2 separate regions of the Homo sapiens genome follow, and region 1 is linked to region 2. The links come from fine-mapping of genetic effects on gene expression. A gene starts in region 2. The other region holds a variant in brackets. All regions are shown on one strand. Distances are between the middles of the regions.

What was found. PIP is the estimated chance that this variant, and not a neighbour inherited with it, causes the effect. A credible set is the group of variants that fine-mapping cannot tell apart.
Region 1: its variant is the best candidate, but not a certain one, in a credible set for the expression of RYBP in whole blood (TOPMed, PIP 0.57).

What each region holds. Positions count from the first base shown.
Region 1 is chr3:72,578,329-72,589,842 of GRCh38, forward strand. LOC105377161 (a long non-coding RNA gene) reads right to left here. Exons shown (of 11, transcript XR_940962.3): 11 at 3,802-3,879. It also overlaps the pseudogene MTCO3P47. Among named protein-coding and RNA genes, the nearest start is that of RYBP, 140 kb to the left of the region's middle. The variant T/C (reference allele first, on the strand shown) is at 6,037.
Region 2 is chr3:72,440,748-72,452,261 of GRCh38, forward strand. It overlaps RYBP (RING1 and YY1 binding protein), which reads right to left and starts at 5,876. Exons shown (of 4, transcript NM_012234.7): 1 at 5,749-5,876. The coding sequence starts at 5,876. RefSeq lists silencers at 6,193-6,252, 6,313-6,722.

The sequences.
Region 1 (11,514 bases), 140 kb after region 2:
TAAATACAGACATTGAGTGTGTTTCAAAACTTATAAAGCACTTTAACTGAGTGATTTTATGTCTGCTGAATCTAATAATAAAAAACACTGAGCTCGTATTTTGTATGCCTTGGTTTTATTTTTTTCCATTAAATTATGTCAATTGTATTTTACTGTATTGGTCTGCAATGGATTAGAAATCTCAAACATTGGCTGGGTGCAGTAGCTCATGCCTGTAATCCCATCACTTTGGGAGGCAGAGGCGGGCGGATCACTTAAGGTCAGGAGTTCGAGACCAGACTGGCCAACATGGCAAAAGCCCCTCTCTACTAAAAATACAAAAATTAGCTGGGAGTGGTGGCGGGCGCCTGTAACCCCAGCTACTTGGGAGGCTGAGGCATGAGAATCGCTTGAATCCAGGAGCTGGAGGTTGCAGTGAGCCAAGACTGTGCCACAGCACTCCAGCCTGAGCAACAGAGCAAGACTCTGTCTCAAACAACAAAAAAAGAAATCTCAAAAACTGACCTTTTATGCCCAGATAATTTGAGAAGCACTGTTCTACACTGTTCCTAGGGCAACAAGACAAATGTGTGTGGGGTCTCAGTGTGTGCGTATGTGTGTGTGTGGTGTTTGTGGAGTGGGTGACAACAGGAAAGGGAAGAATTTAGAAGGTAAACTTGGCTGAATCTGCATTCGCAGGGAAGCTTTTCCATATGAAAACGTCAAAAGACTTTCTCAGAATCAAATACGCCAGAATAAACAGCTTATAGAATGGTCTTCTGAACCTGATGTCCCCAAAGGGAGAATAAATTGCAGCTATTAAGATCATCCTATTCATTTAACTGACCGAGACAGCCCCATGCACGTGGTGGCCCATGCCATAAAAATGTGTCTCTCTCAAAAAACAAACAAACAAAACACCAAAATTTTGATAAATGATTATTTATCTTGAATGCAAAATAAATAAATAAAGCATCTTTCTCACTTACTTTGGAGACATGATTTTTAAATTTGTTTCCTAACTTTCCCCAATCTGGCTTCCATTAGAGAACTATTCCCAAATTAACCTCTGTGCCCTCTCAAGTAAAGAATGCAAGAGATTTCTACCAGCTATTTTCTCCCATTTCGAACATGCCACGTGTGTTTAACAGCAGGCAGAGATTTCCAGGCTAGAAGTGGTAGTAAAGGGATCTTTTAGCAACTGTTCTTTGAAAATCGGCACAGTTTTTTTTTTAATGACAGGCACCCCTTTTGCCCCAAAAGGTCTCTCACATTGCTATCCTGAGCCAAATGTTTAATTGATGCTAAGGAATTTTACATTCAGTCACCTTCCAAGTGCTGAGCAAATGAAGTGCCAATAGGCTATGTGATGGGGGACCAGGGTAAAGATTGAACTTTATCTGTGCTCGTGAGGAGAGATCAGATAAGTCACCAGTGGCTTCAGCAACAATGAGTTATCATTCGCCACACTTGTGAAGGAAAAGGTCAAAGCACACGGTGGTGAACATGCATTTGAGGCCCCAGAAACGGTTTTCTTAGCCACGGCCTCCGGAATCACACACACTGGGTTATTTCTTTGAAGGCAGAGCTAAACATATGTAGCGGAAAAGTTCAGGGTTCAAAGTGTAATTTCAAAAACAAAGAACCAAGTTTCCCACTTAAACATCTAGGTAAATGGACACAGGCCATGAGCTTAGAAGCAAAGGCACATCTTTTCTGCACAGACTGCCAAAATGCCGCTGAATCTTCCTCCCGAGAGCCATACCCTAGGTCCACACCCTTCTATACTCACTCTGGGCTTACTGTGAGGTTTGATTCGATTGATGGGAAAGCAGCAAATGTGGCCCAGGTAGAGATTTCTTTTTTTTTTTTGAGACAGGGTTTCACTGTGTCGCCCAGGCTGGAGTACAGAGGCACAGTCTCAGCTCACTAAAGCCTCAACCTCCCAGGCTCAAGTGATCCTCCCACCTCAGCCTCCCAATTAGCTGGGACTACAGGCATAGGCCACCATGACCAGCTAATTTTTCTATTTTTTGTAGAGATGGAGTTTCACCATGTTGCCTAGCCTGGTCTCCAACTCCTGGGCTCAAGTGATCTGCCCACATCAGCCTCCCAAAGTGCTGGGATTACAGGCATGAATCACTGTGCCCAGCCCCGCAAGTAGAGCTTTGAATAGTACTGTACCTTGGCACTTGCCCTTGTTTGCTGCTCGTTGGAACCCTGAGTCCACCATATGAACAAGCCTGAGTTAGCCACCTGGAGGATGAGAGGCTACCTGGAGCAGAGATGAGCCCTCCCAACTGAAGCCCTTCAGGACCAGTTAGCCTGCTTAATGCCGGATAGGTGAGTGAGGCCATGCTAGATCATACAGCCCCAGCCGAGCCACCAGCTGCCCATGGAGATCAGCCACATACCCCACACAAGAGGAACCACCCAACTGACCCATGGGATCATAAAAAATAATAACTGTCATTTTAAGCCTATGATAAGGTAGTTTGCTACACAGGAAAAGCCAACTGATATGCATTCATTCATTTATTCATTCATCCACTTATTTATTTAACAAATATGTGTTGAGAGCCTTCTGTTGGCTCACTGTGCTAGGCAGAAAGGCAACTGAAAGAGGCCATGAGCTCCTTAAAGCCAAGGATATAGCTTATTTGTCTCTGTTTTCCAGGCCTGGCACACTCCAGCATATATATAGGAGGTGCTCAAAAACTTTATCTAATAAACACATGAATTGGAATTAATCCCAAGGGGACAATTATAGATCTCAAGCTTTAAAAGTGCAGATTGCTTGACTCAGCAATTCCACTTCTGAGAATTTAATGTAAGGAAATATTACAAGAATGTCCTATCATAGCCTCGTTTACAGTGGCTTCATTGGATTTGGTTGAAAACACAATGGTGGCAATAGCAGTGTAGTCTCTGTGACAATTTGGTTGAAAAGAATATTGCAATCATGGGTGCAGGTAATTTCGATCCCCTGTGGAGTAGCTTTATGACCTTTTTGTTCCTTTAGACAAAAAAAAAAAAGTTAAGTATCTTTCAGAATTTGGGGGATTTCATTCTCCTCTACTTTTAAAATTTCTAATTCCCTTTCAGACAATTAAATATGCTCTGGTCTGCTAATAATAAGAAGAAACAAATTGTTTTATGTCTGTCAATAGGGAGTTGGTTAAAGGACAGCGCAAGCATACGATGGGTGTGCCTCATTTTAAGGGATATGGTAGAGACAGGATAGAGCTGTATGCCTCTGTTTACATCAAAAGGTGGTCATTATGTCCATCAGGGTTCTCCAGGGAAACAGAATTCAGAAAGAGAGAGAGAGATTTTAAGGAATTGGCTTACATGATTGGCGGAGTCTGCCAAGTCTGAAATTTGTAGGGTAGGCTGGCAGGCTAGAAACCCAGACAAGAGTTGATGTTATATCCCAGTCTGAAATCTGCAGGCTGTCAGGCTGGAAACTGAGGAAGATTTCCATGATCCTTCCTCTCCAAGAAACCTCAGTTTCGGCTCTAAGACCTTCACATGATTGGATGAAGCCCACCCACATTATCAAAGGTAATCTCCTTTATTTATAGTCAGCTGATTGTAGATGCGCATTACCTCTGTGAAATACCTTCATAGCAGCATCTAGATTGGTGTTTGACCAAACAACTGTGCACCATAACCTAGCCAAGGTAACGCATAAAATTTAACCATCGCTGTCATAAGTTGGAAAAAAAAATCAACTAAAAAATAGAATAATTTGGTTCTATTTTTAAAGAGGAAAATTATAACATATCTATAGAAAAGAAATTAGGAAAGGTCCGCACCAATATGTTAACAATGATTGTCTCTGGGAGGGTCTGATTGCTGGTCTCTCTCCTCTCTGCTGGTCTGGTTTTCCTGTTTTGCCTGAAAAGAGAAAGCCTAGCTATTGAAAGAAAACAAATAAAAGGAACAAAGAATTAAAGAACCTTGTCAATGCCCTTCAGCCAAAGACCACCCAGGAACACACCTGTTGTTGAACAAGTTGGTTTTGTTACTGGTAGAAACTAGAGAGCATGAATACCATGGGGAACTGTGGTAGTTTCCGTAGAGGGTGTTAGAAAGAATCTATTACAGGATTTGGGCTTTGGTTGAGTGATCTGGCGGAAGGCTTAAGGAAACAGGCTCACTCTAGATTCAGTGCTGTCAGAAAGCAACCACAATTCTAGAATTCAGTATCACAATAAGTCTTACGTATACGGAAGGCAAACTAAATCAAGGATAAAGCTGTAATTGACAAAGAAGCAACAGTCACTCGTGTTTGGTGAGAAAAAGAGATGTTTGGTATCTTATGGGTTACACAATGACCTTCTTTTCAGTTTACTTTATCCTGGTTGCAGAGTGACCTTGTCTGTGTTCTATGAGATTGTGTCTGTCCAACAGCAGAACACCATGGCCCTGCTGTATCACACTGGTTCCCAGGTGCCAGAGATTACCCTTTTTTTTTTTTTTCCCCCTCTACCTGAATAGGGATAATACTAGGAACTTTACTTGCACCGAAAAAAACAAAAAGTCTGGAGAGGCTTTATTTTCTGTAACTGATTCTTCCTCTGTTTTCTTAGCCATGTTTTCCTGAAAGTATTAATTTAGTAAATTGAACCAGGATTAGTTTTTCAATCACTAGTGCAAATATCATAAATTTTGAGCATTCTATCCAAGACATGAAATGGTGAACACTAGGATCGTTTCCATCTTTTAGGCGATAGTTGCTTCAGTTGCTTCTTTGTTAGTCTAATCCCAAACCAGAGCGTTTTTTTTGTTTTTTTAAAGACAGAGTCTCACTCTGTTGCCCAGGCTAGAATGCAGTGGCACAATGTTGGCTTACACAACCTCTGCTTCCCAGGTGATTCTCCTGCCTCAGCCTCCAAAGTAGTTGGGATTACAGGCGCTGACACCATGCCTGGCTAATTTTTGTATTTTTAGTAGAGACGAGATTTTGCCATGTTGGCCAGGCTGAGTTCGCTGTTGCCTTCATCCAAGCTTAAGTCTTCACACTTTTAGTAAGACTTTACCTACACGACAATACATAATGACCCACCAAACACACGCCTACCACATAGTTAAGCCCAGCCCTTGGCCATTAACAGGAGCTCTCTCAGCCCTCCTAATAACATCTGGCCTAGCTATATGATTTCACTTTAAATCCACTACCCTACTAACACTGGGCCTACTAACCAGCACACTGACCACAGACCAGGCTGGTCTCGAACTCCTAGCCTCAAGTGATCCGCCCACCTCAGCTTCCCAAAGTGCTGGGATTACAGGTGTGAGCCACTGCACCCAGCCACCAGGGCATAATTGACTGGAAATAGGGAGGTGTTGAAAAGAAGAAAACAAAACTTTAGATTTTTTTTTAAATGATTATTTTGCTGAAAGATGCTTAAAGAGTTGGAATATCATTCCAGGCAAAATTTCCCCTTGGCAAACAAAAATTTCCTTTTTGTATAAACATAGTGACTGAGAATTTTCATTATCAACGAATTCAGCATTCCAACCATACTGACAGCTTAATCAATTTGCTTCCAGCCAAATTGCTCTTGACCAAATTGTCTGCTATGATATATAACAGTAAAACATTGGAAATAACCTAAACATCCAACAAGAAGGTTACTGAAGAAAGCCAAATAAACCATGGTTCATCAATACAATAAATGTCATGCATTCACTTAAAGCAACATACATATACATTTCTTTTGAAAGGAGTAAATGAATGCTTCTAAACATTTAGGGAAAGAGTCACATTTACAAATAAGCCCAATTTAGGTTTGGTTGTTGTTTTGTTTTTTGTTTTTTTGAGACAGGATCTCATTCTGTCACCCAGGCTGGAGTGATCACAGATCACTGCAGCCTTGAACTCCTAGGCTCAAGCAATCCTCCCACCTCAGCCTCCCGAGTAGCTGGGACCACAGGTGCACACCACCAAGCTCAGCTAATTTTTAAATTTTTTGTAAAGACAAGGTCACACCAGGTTTCCCATACTGCTCTCAAACTCCTGGGCTCAAGCAGTCCTCCTCCCTTGGCCTC[T/C]CAAAGCACGGGATTACAGATGTGAGCCACCACACTGGCCCCAATTTAATTGTGACCATACGGCAAATTCTAGGAATTTGACCAATAGAGACAGTTCCTCTTTTCTCTTAAATATGACCCACCTTTCACTGTTTGTTCACCAAACCTAATATTTCCTAACTATTCTTTGCTTGGTTTTTTGGAATACAGGAATCAAGTAGAAAGCAAATCTACTCAGTTCTAAACTGGCAGGGGTGGCTGGGTGTGGTGGCTCATGCTTGTAATCCCAGCATTTTGGGAGACCAAAGTGGGAGCATTGCTTGAGCCTGAGAGTTTGAGACCAGCCTGGGCAACACAGCAAGATCCTGTCTTCATTTTTAAAATAAAAAAATAAAATTGCAGGGGTGATTCCAACAATATAGCACCTGGTCCAATGTCCAGGAAGTAGAGGCTGAAATGTCAGCTCATGTCATGTCAACCCAGGAACAGAGCACTTTCTCTGTGAGAAAGATTTTACTCTTTAACTAAGCCATGGTGCCTTCCTTCTCCTGGACTTTGCTTAAAAAAATTTTTTTTGAACAGCTTTATTGAGGTATAATTAACATATAGTAAACTGCACATATTTAAGGCATGCAATACAATGAGTTTTGATTTATTCATACATCGGTGTGATTATAACCACAATCAAGGTAATGAACATAGCCATTCCCCCCAAAAGTTTCCTTGTGTGTCTTCTAATCCTTCCGATATGGTTTGGCTGTGCCCCCACCCAAATCTCATCTTGAATTATAGCTTCCACAATTCCCATGTGTTGTGGGAGGGACCACGCGGGAGATAACTGAATCATGGGGGCAGCTTCCCCCATATTGTCGTGGTAGTGAATGAGTCTCATGAGATCTGATGGTTTTATAAGGGGAAACCCCTTTTGCTTTGCTCTCATTTCTTCTGCCTGCTGCCATGTAACATGTGCCTTTCACCTTCCACCATGATTGTCAGGCCTCCCCAGCCATGTGGAACTGTGAGTCCATTAAATCTCTTTTTTCTTATAAATTACCCAGTCTTGAATATGTCTCTATCAGCAGTGTGAGAACAGACTAATATACCTTCCTTTCCACCTCTTCCCAATCTCCCCTTTGAGCAACCATTGCTTTCTGTCACTATAGATTAGGTTCCATTTTCTAGAGTTTTGTATTGTTGTCAGCATCGGTAACTTATTCCTTTTGACTGCTGAGTAGCAGGACACTGTATGGATGCACAACGTTTTGTTTACGCATTTAGCGACTGAAGGGCACTCGGATTGTTTTCAGTTTGGGGCAATCACACATAAAGCTGCTATAGACATTCGAACATTCTTGTGCAGGTCTTTGCATGGACATCAACTTTCCTTTCTCTTGGGTAAATATCTAAGAGTATAATGGCTGGATCAAATGGTAAGTTTAACTTTTTAAGAAACTGCCAAACTGCCTTCCAAAGTGCTTGCACCATTTAATGTTCCCATCAGCAGTGAGTGGGCATCTGGACTTTGTTTTCAACCCAGAGAGAAGCCTGGGTCTGAGGACCCCAGAAACTGGGTTCTTCTGAGGAGGGCCACACTTTACATAGGCATCTTTAGGAGAGGGCCCTGGAAGAGGTGGGGGACACAGCACTAGGGTGGGAATCAGCCACAGTCCACCAGGAAATTGGGGAGGCCAGTTTTGTCTGAGAGCTGGTGGGCTCTGAATATATTCCACGCTTTCTTTGTCCCAGCCTGGGGAGTGGGGGTGGAAGTAGAGGAGGAAAAGAATTTCAATGAGCTGCTTTTGACTTGATGTCATTTTGTTGGTTTCAATAACTATTTGTTGAAATAATCTGTGCCAAAGGAGGCCAAAAGGGAAGAGGCATAGGACTGGGGTTCAAAGAGCAGACCCTGAAGAGTCCTTGGAGGACGAGGGAGAGTGCGAGAGGCTTAGCAGGGTGGACAGTGATTCTCATTTTACAAAAATGCCCAGTATCGAGATTGCTGCAGTGTTTTCAGTGCTGGGGAAATGACATCCCTAAGGCTTGCATTCTAGATCCTCAAAAAACAAATTGCCCTTTTAAAGTCTCACGGTTAAAGAGATATTTGGTGTCTCTTGAACATGTGGTCGGAGGGTTTTCTGATGGGAATCCTTGGTTGTTTTTAACAAAATAAGCCAGATCCAGAGGCTGCGTGACAGGACCCGGGCACCTCTCAGGCTGTCTTCTCACAGTTTGTCTTCTTTCCTAGCCTAATTTCTAGACTCTCTGCACCTGTGGTCTTTGTTTCACTCCAGCATCACCTTTTCAGCCTCTGCCATTAATTGGACTCATTGAATGCACTGGGCTCATGCCGGCTTCCTAGTTGCTGAATCCAGAGGCCTTTTCTCAGATCTTGTTCTCCTGCTCTCATGGCACCATTTTGATATGGAAGATGGGCAGAGAAGTGCTGGGAAGGGAAGGGCATGGTGCCTGGCTACGGCTCCACCCCCGAGCCTATGGACCTAGGTGAAGACAGGCACTCCTGCCTTCATGCACAAATGTTGCATTTCCCAAGGCCACCCTGGTCGGCCACACCCTGATCCTGTGCTGTAAATAAACCGGAGACCTTAGTGGGTATGCACACAAGAAGTAGCTGAGCCATTGAGCAGAACACACCAGCCGAAGAACACACAAGCAGCTGGACGTCAGGAGCACACTGGCAGGCACCTGCAGGCTGGCAGGCCATCGACCAGCACAACAACATGGAGTTTGGCTGGGGCAGTTGGAGGGGAGCCCCACTGCTGAGCGGCCTGACTCTAGGGGAAAACCACCTTTCCATTCCATCTCCCTTCAGCTCCCCCATCTGCTGAGAGCTACTTCCACTCAATAAAACCTTGCATTCATTCTCCAAGCCCACATGTGATCCGATTCTTCCAGTACACCAAAGCAAGAAACCCTGGGATACAGAAAGCCCTCTGTCCTTGTGATAAGGCAGGGAGTCTAATAGAGCTGACTAACACAAGCCACCTACAAATGGCAAAACTAAAAGAGCACCCCATAACACATGCCCACTGGGGCTTCAGGAGCTATAAGTATTCACCCCTAGATGCTGCCTTGGGATGGGAGCCCCACAGCCTGCCCATCTGCCTGCTCCCCCTAGAGGTTTGAGCAGCGGGGCACTGAAGAAGCGAGCCACACACACCCTGTGAAGGGGACAAGGGAACTTTTCCCATTTCAATATGGTCTTCTCACTCACCTCCTCCCTCTAGACAGCTCTCCTGCCTAGGTCTCCATGGCGCTGTTCTACCTAGCTCTCCTGCTGCAGGTTGACTCCCCTGGTAAGCTGTCTCTAAGATGGAGATGATCAGGGAGTGCTCTCAGCATCACTCCGTGGAGGGAGCAGAGGGAAGCAGGACTGGGAGGGAGAAGCTGAATTGTGAAATAGTCTCAGCAAAGGCCTCAGCCAGCTCCACAGGGACAGGCATTCGGGGCACTGAGTTGGAGCAAAAGAATCAGGTCTTTACACACCCGGTTGATCAGTCGCTGGGGGTGGGCTCCCTGGAAGTAGGCAAGGCTTTGGGCAAGGTGGTGTTATTTAGCCACGGGCCATTCATTCCAACAGTGTTGCCAGCAGCTGGGGGAATCAGTCCCTCCCCAAAAGGGGATCTAGGCAGCACACTACAGTGTCCACAACACCTTCCTTCTCTCCAGCCGCTCCTTCCCTGGTGTAGGTGACCACTTTCCTCTGGTCTCAGGCTATGGCCTTCTGCTCTTCTCTATTTACAATCTCTTTTGTAAAACACTAATAAAGTATTTTATTTACACTTCATACAAGAACAGTAACTAGCATTTATTGGGTGCATCCTATGAGTAGATGCCAGGCACTGTGCTAGGCACTGCCGATATATTATCTCATTCAAGTTCCCAGAAACCCACTGGCATTAGGGGATATCAAAACTCTTTATCACAGCCAAGGAAAGTGCCAGAAGAGTCTTCTTAAAAAAACAAAGCAAAATCCTTTTTCTACCATGTCATCTCCCTCCTAGCTCAAGGCCCTTTGATGGCTCCCAATTACTGTTGGAATAAAAGCCCAGACTCCTAACTCAGCACCCAAAGCCCTCCGAAACCTGTCCTGAGCCTCCCTTTTTACAATTCTTCCTTTTTCCATTCCTGCCAAACCAAGCCCTTCACTAGGACTTTCAGCTGGCCTGCTCCAACCTGCTCCGAGACTAGCTCGGCTTAGCTCTTAACTATGCCTGTCCCTTCCTTTGACAGTCATTCATTCACGTATCTGTTTCCTCATCTATTGTAGACCTAACATATACTAGGCTGTGTGTTGGGCATTGGGGATACAATGCTGAACAGACACAGCCTGTCCTCCGCTTCAGAATCTTAAAATTGTGCAAGAAAGACGAATGTTATTCAAACTTGCCAAATTTTCAGTTATTTATTTATTAATTATTATTATTATTTTTTGAGACAGAGTCTTGCTCTGTCACCCAGGCTGGAGTGCAGTGGAGCAATCTCAGCTCACTGCAACCTCTGCCTCCTGCGTTCAAGCAATCCCCTGCCTCAGCCTCCCAAGTAGCTGGGATTACAGGTGCCCACCACCACGCCCAGCTAATTTTTGTATTTTTAGTAGATATGGGGTTTCACCATGTTGGCCAGGCTGGTCTCAAACTCCTGACCTCAGGTGATCCACCCTCCTTGGCCTCCCAAAGAGCTGGGATTACAGGTGTGAGCCACCATGCCCAGCCTCAAATAGTTATTGAATTCCAGCTTTGACTCAATGCTAAGAGGGGAGCATCAAGGGGTGTTGAAAGCTTAAAAGGGAGCGCTGAGGACCCTTGGTGAGCCAGGTGCTCTTCCAGTGCCCGTGGATGTGGCTGTGTAACTCAGTCGCTTCCCTGCTTTCTTCGTGGGGCCTAACGTAAGTGTTTCTCCTTTTCAGCTCTCCCCTTTCTCCTCTTAATATCTACATTGCCTGTTGCCTCAACTACTCAATCCTGTGCAGCTTTGCTTTCTCAATGTAAAGCGCTGTCGTCTCTCAGGTACATTTTGAGTCTTATGAATGATAGTTATCACTGATTTGAGGACATATCCTGTGCCAAGCAGTCTCTATGCTCTCACACTGTTCAGCAATTGCAATATCCTCACAACCATCCTTCTTCTTCTTCTCATGATCCCATTGTCTTAGTCCCGGAGGAAGTAACCCTGAGACAGGGACTCAGAGCACCTGGTTTACTTGGCAGTTTAAAGAAACATGGGCAGGTCAGTGGGGAGGTCATGGAAGGGAGGGTGTATTATCAGTCAAGTTCACCCTGGGGGAAAACCAGAGCCAAATCCCGCTGGGGAAATTCTGAGAAGTGGCATAGAATGCGTCTCAGAATCACCGTACCCAGGGGGTGAAGGAGTTGGGGTGCTTATTCACCAATTCCCACCAGACGCTGGTTGAGGGCTGTGTGTAGGTGGGAATGGCACTAATTCCTGGGCACTGCTGGCACCTGCAAGGGCAGGCAAAGT
Region 2 (11,514 bases):
GCAAAAGAGAAAAGAAGTGCCAGAAAGACTGCAGAATGTGTTAGCTCAAGTCATTTAGGACACGAGAGACCTACTATTTACTCAAAGTCCTAATGAACCAAATTAGTTCTGATAACTATTTTGGTAAACTACAGCTACTTGAGAAAGTTTTTCTTAATCCTGGAATTTTCTTCAGCACCTACTGAAATACACAACAAATATATGCCACATGAATAAATAATATGTAAGTGAATCCATTCATAATCTCCCACCCTAATGACTAACAATACTAGTAAATTAGCTGGCCTAGGTTTAGTCTACAACATGGAACTAAGTTTATAAGTTTAGCAGCCTATGCACAAGGGCTCCAAATCTAAAAGCTGTCTGTCCCCCAACCAAATGAGCTAAATGGCACAGGTAAACCTACATAAGAATTATCCCCGGCTCCAAAAGGAAGTAGCATTACTTTTTCCTAAAAAATTAAATGCATTATCTCAACATTGTCTATAAAGCAGTCACTCCACCCAGTTCTCATCACTCTGTAGTTCCTTACCCTTCTCTAAATTCTTCGTAGCACTTGTCGCCAGCTGAAATTGTTATTTTTCTGTTAGTTTATTTTCTCTTCCTTTCCATAGTATTTTAAGCTCCGTAAGAACAGGGACCTGGTCTGTCTTTATACCACTGTACACCAAGAGCGCAAATGGCTGTGTGCTCAATAAAAACTTGTCAAATGACCACAACTACCCAGGTAATTTACTTTAAGGTCACCAAGTACACATAAGATCAAGTCACCACCAATAAATCAGTAAGTCCAATGAAACAGTAAACACAAAATAAATTATTACTCTGTTCCTGGGTAAAATGATCTTAAATTGTACCAGCTTTCAGCTTGGAAGGTTTGATAAAAGTTTGATTTGGAAGACAGGTAATTTTTATATATTTTTATGGAGAATTTTTATGAAAGACAAACACTACAACAAAAACAATGTCATGAAAGGAGCAAAACCACTGCTGTGGATTACCAGGAAACATGAGTAAGAGGCTTGGGCTTTGCCCAGTGTAGGTACCTTATCTTATTTCTGGGAGTTTTTCTACCTAAAAAGCATCACACGATGATGCCTTTTTGAAGCTTCCAGCAAAGATCATAGCTATGTTGTGTTTTTCCATAAAACTTCTACTAAAGTACTTCATGACAATTCAAGAGATTTTTGGTTGTCAGGGTATCTAAATTTAAGGGGGGAATGGATAGTTCAAAGCTACAACTGCAAAAAACTGGTAAATTCTCAAACAAGAGAAACGTATTACACACAAAACAGCTGCTTCTTCAACACTTCCAATTCAATATCCTGAATACCAAATTTTTTCAAAGATAATTATTTCTACACAATTTTATTCTACACCTAAAGTAATTTCCTCACTCATACTTGTGTATAAAAGCTCCAAAAACAGTCAGCTTTTCAGAGGGGCAGTATTCAAATAAACATGGATGAAATAAAACATGATCTCAACACAGCGATACATTTCTGGAGCTGAAGACCAGAAAGTTCTAAACCTATGGTAATTAGCCAAAGTAAAAATTTTCCAATTTTGCAAATGAATGTGATTAAGCAGTAGCTGAAAGTAAAAATGCAGGACTACTATCAAGGGAACACTAATCAACAACTATATTCAGCAATGTCTTGGTAATTTTTATTTTACAATTAAGGTAACATTGAATGCAGAGAAATAACAAGACAAGAAAAGTAAAATTAAATCACCAAGTCTAGGAAGCTACTCTGCCCAATCTTGAGAAATGCAACTTAACAAAACAACAGTTAGGGGCTGGGCAAATCCCAGCACTTTGGGAGGCCAATGGAGGAGGATCCCTTGAGGCCAGGAATTCAAGACCAACCTGAGCAACATAGCAAGACCTTGTCTCTTCATTTAAAAAAAAAAAAAAAAAACCACCACCACAACAAAAAAAACATCAGCTGGAAGTGTAGGAAGGTGGAAAATACAAAGAAAAAAAAAACACACACAGTTGGGTACATTCATGCATTTGTAGTTTTTTTCTTCTACTTTTAAAAGCCGGTATCCTCTTTCTTGAGACTGGCAAAGCAGGATGGGAAATACTACTTTACCACTTAAGAAAGGGATAGTGTTTCTCCCCCAGCCACTTGCCACCTTACACACACATTCTAACATGCACTTTTATTTTCTACCTTGAAAGGCTCAGGGTACATCAGCATGGTAGGGAAGCAACCTGTTGCCCATGACTTCTCCATTCTGTTCTGTTAGACTTACAGAACGGATATAACGAAACCATTTGACATGATGGAAATGTTCTAAAACTGGGTTGCCGTGATGGCTGCACAACTCTTTAAAATGACTAGAAATCACTGATTTGCAGACTTACAATGGGTGTTATAAGTAAATTATCACTCACTCCTGCAAGGCAGAAAGATCACTTGAGGTTAGGAGTTCAAGACCAGCCTGGTCAACAGGGCGAAACCTTGTCTCTACAAAAATTACAAAACTTTGCCGGATGTGATGGTGCACACCCGTAGTCCCAGCTACTCAGGAGGTTCAGGTGGAAGAATCGCTTGAGCCACGGAGGTTGAGGCTGTAGTGAGCCATGAGCATGCCACTGCACTCCAGCCTGGGTGACAGAGAAAGACCCTGTCTCCAAACAAAAGGATATATATATAACCAGAAAAGGCACAAAGAGTGGACAGTCTAGTTAGAAAAACAAGTTTATCAAAAAACCAAAGACACCCAACACATACTGATAATACATCTAAAATATAGATCTCTCCTGCTGCCCCTGAACCTCCACACAGCCTAGGCCACCTTCTTCCCTTAACAGATTCCTTAAGACCATCTCACCTTTCATTCTGCTCTATTGCTGCTCCAAAAAGAAAAAAAAGACCTCATTCTCAATCACCTTAACAATTCCACCTGCAGAACTAAAAATATCTGACGTACATGGTAATAGTGAAAAGGTGACAGGTGATTTTTTAATTCTCCTTGTCCAAAAGAAGTGGAGAAGAAGGAATCCTTCTAACTGATTCCCTAAGCCAGACCCCTGCTTCCGTACAGCCTTTATAATTGGAATTATGGTCATTCCCATACACGGCTTATCAACATTTTAACACTCCCCTCTCCTCTCTCCAATCCCTTCAGCAGCATCTTTCATATCCTACGAATTTAATAAGTGTTCTTCAGACGAATGGCAGTATTTTCCCAATCACATCAGCAATATCAATTCTACCCTCAAAGGGCAAATATAGTTCTCTATCATACTGGCCTACCACTAAGTCATAGGTGGTTTCCTTGGTTGACTGGTAGATGAAGGTGACAGTGATGAGAATGATCAAAAACTGCAAAATAACCACCGGCTAGCCAACTAGCTAGAATTGTTAAAATACATAACACCAGCTCAGAGCAATAAAATACAATTTCTGTGCCACGAAACAAATTATTCTAAAAATCACAAATATTGCCTATTACCCAGCATCCAAAACACAAGTTTTCTACTGCCATCAATCTATACCAAGTCTGATTAAAACTACACAAGATAGAAAATGTCAAGTTCATACTCAAACTTTTGAGGTACAAAAAAAATACAAGAGGGCCAAGAAAAAAACATGGCAGTAACCAGTATCACAAAGGGATTAACCAACAGTTAACACACAAGACAGGATAGGATGAAAACCTGTCAAACTCACTTCTCCACATAAAACCTGTTCATAATGTAGGAAAACCAAAACGTTATTTGCATTCCAACCAACGATGACTTCTGAATAGATCTAAAACACCAAAATATTGACAATAACCAAAATGAAACCAACTGTGGCCAGCTAAGAGTGTCATGAATGCACACAGTTTTCAGTCCTCACACCTGTTAAATCTGTATTCAAATTCTATTAAATGACATCAGAAAATTACTCGAAGACCCTTAAAGTAGACGCCTTTCCCTGTTCCTGAATAGACTCTAAAATATTTTCACTGTAAATAATTCAGTAGTTTTAACTAAGTTTCAACAGTCATCTGCGGCTCTGAAAAAACTTTAAACATACATACATACCTTTTTTAAAAGTCAACACCTTCCATGTGCTTCCGAAAAATTGATGAGTAAGGTTTTTTAAAATACATGTTAAAAGCTGAAATGCACTTCATTATGAGATAATCATTCCCAGCGATAAATCAGACATAAACTTTTGAATTTGGTTTACGTTTCTCTTCACCAGTAATGTTCTCAAGTTCTTAGGAGTTTCCTAATCATTTACTTGAACACCATCTACGGTAACACTCAAAGCAAAACCACAATAAAGAGGTTTGGCCTCTGAGGGCTTCTACATGTAAAAAACATTACTCATAAATAATATACAATCACTACTGCTTTAAATAACAAATACATTTCTAAAAACTTTCATGCCATTTGATGGAATTCCCTATTTTAGACAGCAAAACAAAATCTATGAAACTACTGATGCGTGTTTTTTACTTTAGATATATTCCATGATAATACAAAACACCGACAAAAATTTCTTAAAACAACGTATGGAGTAATATTTTTAGTTTTTGATTATTTTTATTCAAAGGTATCATCATTTAAAGAGTGCAATTCACAGAAACAATAATTAGGCCAATTAATCTCAGAGTTAGATTATTTTAGGTTGCCCAATAATCCTATTTAATCCCAAGTATAAATAAACCAATGAAACCTTAACATGACATATTCATCTAATCAAAGAACAATATCCAGTTGGAACTGTGAAGTACTACTACACAGTCACACTGAAATGTCACCAATTCAAAAATAAGTACCTGATAAAATGAGACTTTTGGCAATCAACTGTAATGTTCTAAAGGATCCACCAAAAACTCATTCTTGTCTCACACACACACCCAATGCCTGTTCATTAAATGACACCAAGAACAGTTTAACTTCAAACTCTAACGCCAATGAAACAAATTCAGACATAAATTAAAAGATGACCAAAAGACTACATGAGTCTTGACATTTTATCCAAGTATTTATGAATGTTAAATCTAAAGTAGTTAACTCGTTTTAACATCACATGCAGTTTACGACCTTCATCAAAATGAAAAGGAATTCTTTCAACATTCTTTTCATCATCACAGAGCTTTAAACACAAACTTCCACAGTCACTGCTCATTTCACCATTTTACAAAATCGTCCCCCATCACCACCCCACATAAGCTAGTCAAAGAAAAAAAAAACTGACAGCTCAGTCTCCCACAAAATGCACTTACTTTATCAAATACCGACATTTATTTTCAAGTGCAAGAAAGTAACAGACATTTGCAGCTCAAGACAGGAAAAGCACAGCCAGCCTTACTACCCCCACTAAATTTCTCAGACAAGAGAAAAGTAACTCGGGACAGGCAAATTAAAACCATTCTACACATGGCAAAAATATAAAACATCTATGTCCTACAATCCATAGCGATAGTACTGCTTCCTCTCTTCCCCAGCCAATACCAATAAGCCAATAGACACAAGTGTCAAATAAATCCAGTGTCCGTTTGAAATAAAATGAAAACCTGGAAAAATTCCCTCCCATAAATCATTTAGCGAACACAAGGCTTTTCACCCAACACTTAATACACTCAACCCAAAAACACACACAACCCACCCGCAAATACAAAAAAAGCCGTAATCAACAAGTTGGAAAAAGGGCAGAAAGTAAGGCTCACTACCCTCTCACTTAAAAAAAAAAAAAAAAAGTCCTTTAACAAAAGGTAACACAGATCTTCAAGTACCTGGTGGAGGTGCCTTTCCTCACATCGCAGATGCTGCATTTAAAGGCTTCAGCACTGTTTCTGAAGGTGCAGACGCTACAATCCCAAAACCCTTCGTCTGCGGCAGGTTTCGCTTGTCTTTTTGGCCTTCCGAGGAGTGGAGAGTGGGGGAAAAGGGAGGGAAGAGGCAGGGAGCAGGAAAACGGGGGAGAGACAGCAAAACACAGACGCGGGTGAGCCGTCGTAATTTCGCAGGAATCCAGTGCTGGAAACTTCGCTCGGGAGACCACCCACCCACCCTTTCCGGGGACTGGAAGAGAGAGCGAGGAAGGGAACCGGGCGCCCCCACTGGCACCCTGCAAGCCCCGGGCCCGGGCCGGATAGCCTCGCACACCAGGCGGTGGCGGCGGCGCCCCGGGAAGGGCCGCGGCGGGCGCAGGAAGCGGGCGGACTTGTGGACTTGAGCGTGGGGCTGGGGGGGCCGGGAGGGGAGCCGCGGGCCGGATCTGGAGGGGGCGCGCAGGGGCAGCCCGAGGCCGGCGACGGGGAGTGGGCCGGCTCCTTCCCTCTCCACTCCCAAGCTCGCGCCCTCCCTCCCTCCCCACCTGGTTAAATCCATCACAGTCTCCGGACGAGACTAGTCCCCGCCAGCGCCGCCTCCGCCGAGTGACTGACGAGGGGCGGGGCCTGGCGCCGCGCGTCACGCGCCGTGCGGCCAATGGGAGGGCGGCGGCCGGCGCCGCGAGGGCGGAGGCGGGGCGCGGGGGAAGGCGGGGCGTGGCGGACGTGGGCCGGGCGGTCGGTGTGCGTGCCCGGGAGTGTGTGCGCGCTGGGGGCGCGCGTGCCTGTCGGTGGCCCCGCGGCCCGGCGCGGCGGAGCGTGCAAGCCCGGCGGGGCGCACGTGGCCGCGCCCGGGAGCTGGCAACTGGCTTCGGGCCCCGCACGGCGCCCCGTGAGGCTGTTGCCGGGACCCCGGCCCCGAAGCCGCCCCGGGGAAGTAGTTCCACGCAGTTTGCGCGCGCCGCGGGAGCTTGCAACAGCCTCACCGCTCGCAGCGCCTCGAGGCTTGCAGTGCCCAGGGGCCGACAAGGTCCACCTTTGGACCGCGTTCCCCCGCGCCCCTCTGTTCCTCTGCCATGCGGAGCTTTGTATTTGCCTCTTCTGAAGTCCCTGCGTCCGGCCGAGACGCTGGCCCGAAGCCCCACTCCCTGTCAGGCCCCTGTCGCGGGAGGGAACAGTAGAGAAAGGGCGTGGCATAACTAAATGCCCCCAGGCCAGACTCTGAGCTTCTGCTGGCGGACTCCTCCTGGGATCCTCCTCTCCCCTAGAGTCTAAATAGGGCGTTTCCTTAGGGAAGTTGCTATTCAAATTCTGGCGACCACATGCCCGCATTAAAACCTCGTGCCTCAGCTCCTTCATCTCCAAAATGGGGCTCATCCTCCCAGGGTTGTTTTGAATATTCGGAGAAATCAGGCATGGAAGGTTCGCTGATGGATGCCTGGTATTCACGAAGGACCAAAACAAGATATTGGGTATTAGGAGCTATTATAACTGGGCCTGAATTGTGCACCATTTCCCCCGCGTTCGATTTTTGAAGTCGAGGAACAGGGTAGTGCCCTTCACTTTCTGCCCTGCTCCAAAAACGCTTGCCAAATTGACTTGAACGTGACTCAGGACCCTCTGTCCTCAGGCAGGGAGATCTGGTAGGAGGACGACCCCAGATGATAAAAGACACAGACGCGGCTGTGCTGAAGCCCCAGGTTAGGGGAGGGACGGAGTCTTAGAATGCTGCTAGGAGTTGGGGCCCGGGGGTGGGGGGATTGGAGTTAAGACAGACCCTCAGCCAGGTTTATATGCAAATATAAAATAGGTTGTTATCAGGACTGCCCCATGGAAGGGAAGCATATCAGGGCTTGCCACCAGGGAAGCTCACTGAGACTGAGCACCCAGGGAGCAGAAATTCCTAGAGATCAGTCCAGGGATCAGAAGGGAGAGAATAAAAGAGAGAATGAATGTGTCAACAATAAGTTTGATCAGCACGCAGTGTCCTCTCCAGGCAGGCGCACCCAGGAGGGCCAGGAGAAGCAACACTGTTTAGCAAGGGTCAGCAACCTCTCAAGGCCTCAATGCCACAGCTGCCTCCTTAGGGGAGGGATGAAAGAAGGAAGAGGAAGAGAGAGGGATAGCGTTCTAGGGGTAAAAGGGCCGTAGAAAGCCAAAGGGTACGTACACAAGCCATGGCCCAGTGCAGCTGCGCCATGGAGCAGCCTTGGCCTCTGGTGTCTCCCTGGCATGCTCCCAGGACTCTGCCCCTGGCATGAAGGTCGTGACAGAAACGGGGCACTAAGAAATCCTCACTGGAAGAGTGGCCTCCGGGGAGGTAGCTGGGAGCCATAGTAGTGGAAAGGAGACTTTGTTATTATTCTATACATAGAATAAAATACACAAATTTTCACACTGCAGCTTAGTGCATACATCTACACCCCTCTTTCCACCATTAGAACAATAAAACATTTTATCCTCCCAATGAGTCATCCCTCACTTAGGTAACCACAATTCCGACTTCTGTCACCAAAGATTAGTTTTGCCTGTTCTTTAAGGTCATATGCAGGGGTCATATGGTCTGTACTCTTGTGTCTGGCTGGCACCTTTCGCTCAGCATATTTGTGATATCCATCCACGTTGTTGCCTACATCAATAGTTCATTTTTGTTTGCTTAAGTGTGTAGAATTCCATTGCAAATACACTGTAATTTATCCATAGGAGGTTGACTGTTTTAGTATGTCGTTTTGTATCTTTGTCTTGTGTTATCTTTTCAAAAAAGAAAAAGTTTTTAAAAATGTGTTTAAGAAGGGCCAGGCACGGTGGCTCACACCTGTAATCCCAGCAGTTTGGGAGGCCGAGTGGGTGGATCACCTGAGGTCAGGAGTTCGAGACCAGCCTGGCCAACATGGTGAAACCCTGTCTCTACTAAAAATAAAAAAAAAATAGCCGGGCGTGGTGATGGGCGCCTGTAATCCCAGCTACTCGGTAGGCTGAGGCAGGAGAATTGTTGGAACCAGGGAGACGGAGGTTGCAGTGAGCCAAGATTGCACCATTGCACTCCAGCCTGGGCGACAGAGCAGGACTCCGTCTAAAAAAAAAAAAACCAAAAAATCAAAAAAATGTGTTTAAGAAAAACAATTTCAGAGTAGAGAACTATCTCTAGGAACTTATCAGACCCAAGGATCACCATGTGGTTGTAACTTTAGAGGCTCTAATTTCATTCAGATGTTGGAGGCAAATATCTATTGAAAGTCTCCTTGTAGTTGTATGAGTCAAATGGGACTATTTCTGGTACAGTGTGCTCCAGAGTGCTGTGGCTCTAGGCAGAGCGTACTGTGATTCTGGAGTGGGGTTTAGAGGCTGAGCTGGGTGGGGAACTAATTTTCCTCTAAGATGTCATCTTGGACCAGTATGGGGTGAGAGTAACAGTGAGAGTTGCCAGCCAGTCCCTGCTCCTCTGTTTCCTCCCTTGAACCTCCATTTCATATTTCATTTGACAAAAGGGTTCTACTGCTTTAAAAATTATTTGATTGAGAGGCCGAGGCAAATGTTTCACTTGAGGCCAAGAGTTTGAGACCAGCCTGGCCAACATGGTGAAGCCCTGTCTCTACTAAAAATACAAAAATTAGCCGGGCATGGTGGTGCACTCCTGTAGTCTCAGCTACTTGGGAGGCTGAGGTGTGAAGATCACTTGAGCACAGTAGGCGGAGGTTGTAGTGAGATGAGATCACACCACTGCACTCCCGCCTGGGCAACAGAGTGAGACTCTGCTTCAAAGAGAAAAAAAAAATTGTTTGAAACCCGTGGTTTTAGTGTAGATGCTGGTTAGAAGCACTGGCCAAGAAATGTCCAGTATAAATGTTTCCACAGATACATAAGACACATTCGAAGTCTACATTTTGACTTCCTTCCCCTCATTCGCTTCACTCACACCGGCTTCCTGGCTGTTCCTAAAACAGTTCCCTACCTTCAGGGCCTCAGAGCCTTCACACTTACTGCTTCCTTGGCTTGGAATGCTCTTTGCGCAGATACCCACATTCATTGTCAGCTGCCTCAATTCCTTCAGGTCTTTACGCAAAAGTCAATTCCTCACTGAGATTTTCCCTGGTCACGCAATCTACATCTGCATGTGTTTTGTTTCTTTTCCTTTCCTTTTCTTTTTTTTTTTTTTTTTTTTTTTGGAGACAGAGTCTTGCTCTGTTACCCAGGCTGGAGTGCAGTGGCAGGATCACAGCACGGCTCACTATAGCCTCAACCTCCTGAACTCAGACAATCCTTCCACCTCAGCCTCCTGGGTAGCTGAGACTACAGGCATGTAATACCACACCCAGCTAATTTTTCTTTTTTTTTCTTTTTTTTTTTTTTAAGTAGAGAGAGGGTTTCACCATGTTGCCCGGGCTGGTCTGGAGCTCCTGGGCTCAAGAGATCCTCCGGCCTCAGCTTCCCAAGTTGCTGGGATTATTGGCGTGAGGCACTGCACCCGGCCCAATCTAAAAATTTCATACACCAACCCACAACCTGATGTCCCATGTCCCTCTGTCCTGCTCTACTTTTCTCTCCTTAGCATACCCTACATTTGGCTCTTATAATGAGGAGACTTTTTCTCTAATGTACCCCACAGTTCAGTTATCTTGTTTAAGCAGATCCTTGCCCCAGTAGAATATATGCTTCATGATGGCAGGGATTTTATTTTTCTGCTGTGTTCCCCCCACCATCCCACCTAGTATATATCAAGTGCCTAGAACACTGACTAGTGTACATTCGTTGAAAAAAAAATCTCTTTCATTTAACAATATATTGAGTAGCAACTAGCTATCATGCTCATGCCAGGGAATGGAAGATCAGATAAACAAAATAGACTTCATTCCTAATCTTTTGGAGTTTACCTCCTAGTTGAGGAGCCAGACATTATACAAGTAATTACAATTGTGACAATTGCTACAAAGACAAAATACGAGATGAGAGGTGAGAGGGTGCTAAGAGAGGGAGGTTGTTGATGTAGCCGGTGGAGCCGGGAACTCCCCTGAAAAAGTTAAGTTGCCCACAAGAAAAAAAGGCAAAAGCAGTCAGGTGTCTGGTGCTTTGGAGGAGCTAAAGGCAAGCAGCTGTGGCCAGAGTCCCGCCAGAGAGGAGAAATGAGGCTGGAGAGGCAGGTGGCTGGATAGATCCATATGGCAGGGTAGGGAGTGAGTTGGGAGTGAGGTCTTTATCCTGAATGCGATGGAAGCCACTGATGAGTTTACAAGAATATGTCTACCTGGGACTGTCAGTGTCTGCCTTAAAGAATTAGATGCTGGGAGAAGCAGACTCCTTGGAGGAGGGGAGGTAGTGGAAGGACCTTTAAAGTGGCCCAGATTCAGACCATGAAGGGCAGCTTGGGTGGGCTTCCCTCCTTTCTTCAGCTCAAGAAAGAAGTGAAAGCCACTGAGGCTTGCCAATGGGAAGGGCTGGAAAGTTATCAACTCAGGCTTCCTCCTGCCGTTAAATTTGCAAGTGCTACTCCCTAGACGGAAACCTGAATACTCACTAAGCCTAGGACTTTGAACCTTAGGAATCCCCAATGAAGGTATTATAAACAAGTGAGAGAAAAAAGGTTTGCTCCAAACACCTCAGTGCTTACCCCTGCCCCACCCATGATACACCTTCTTATGGTCTGAGTCCCACACCCTGATCGGGGGTGACATTTTCAACAATCTGCAGTGCAATGAGAAAAATAAAGGGTAAATGTATGAGTACTTTCCT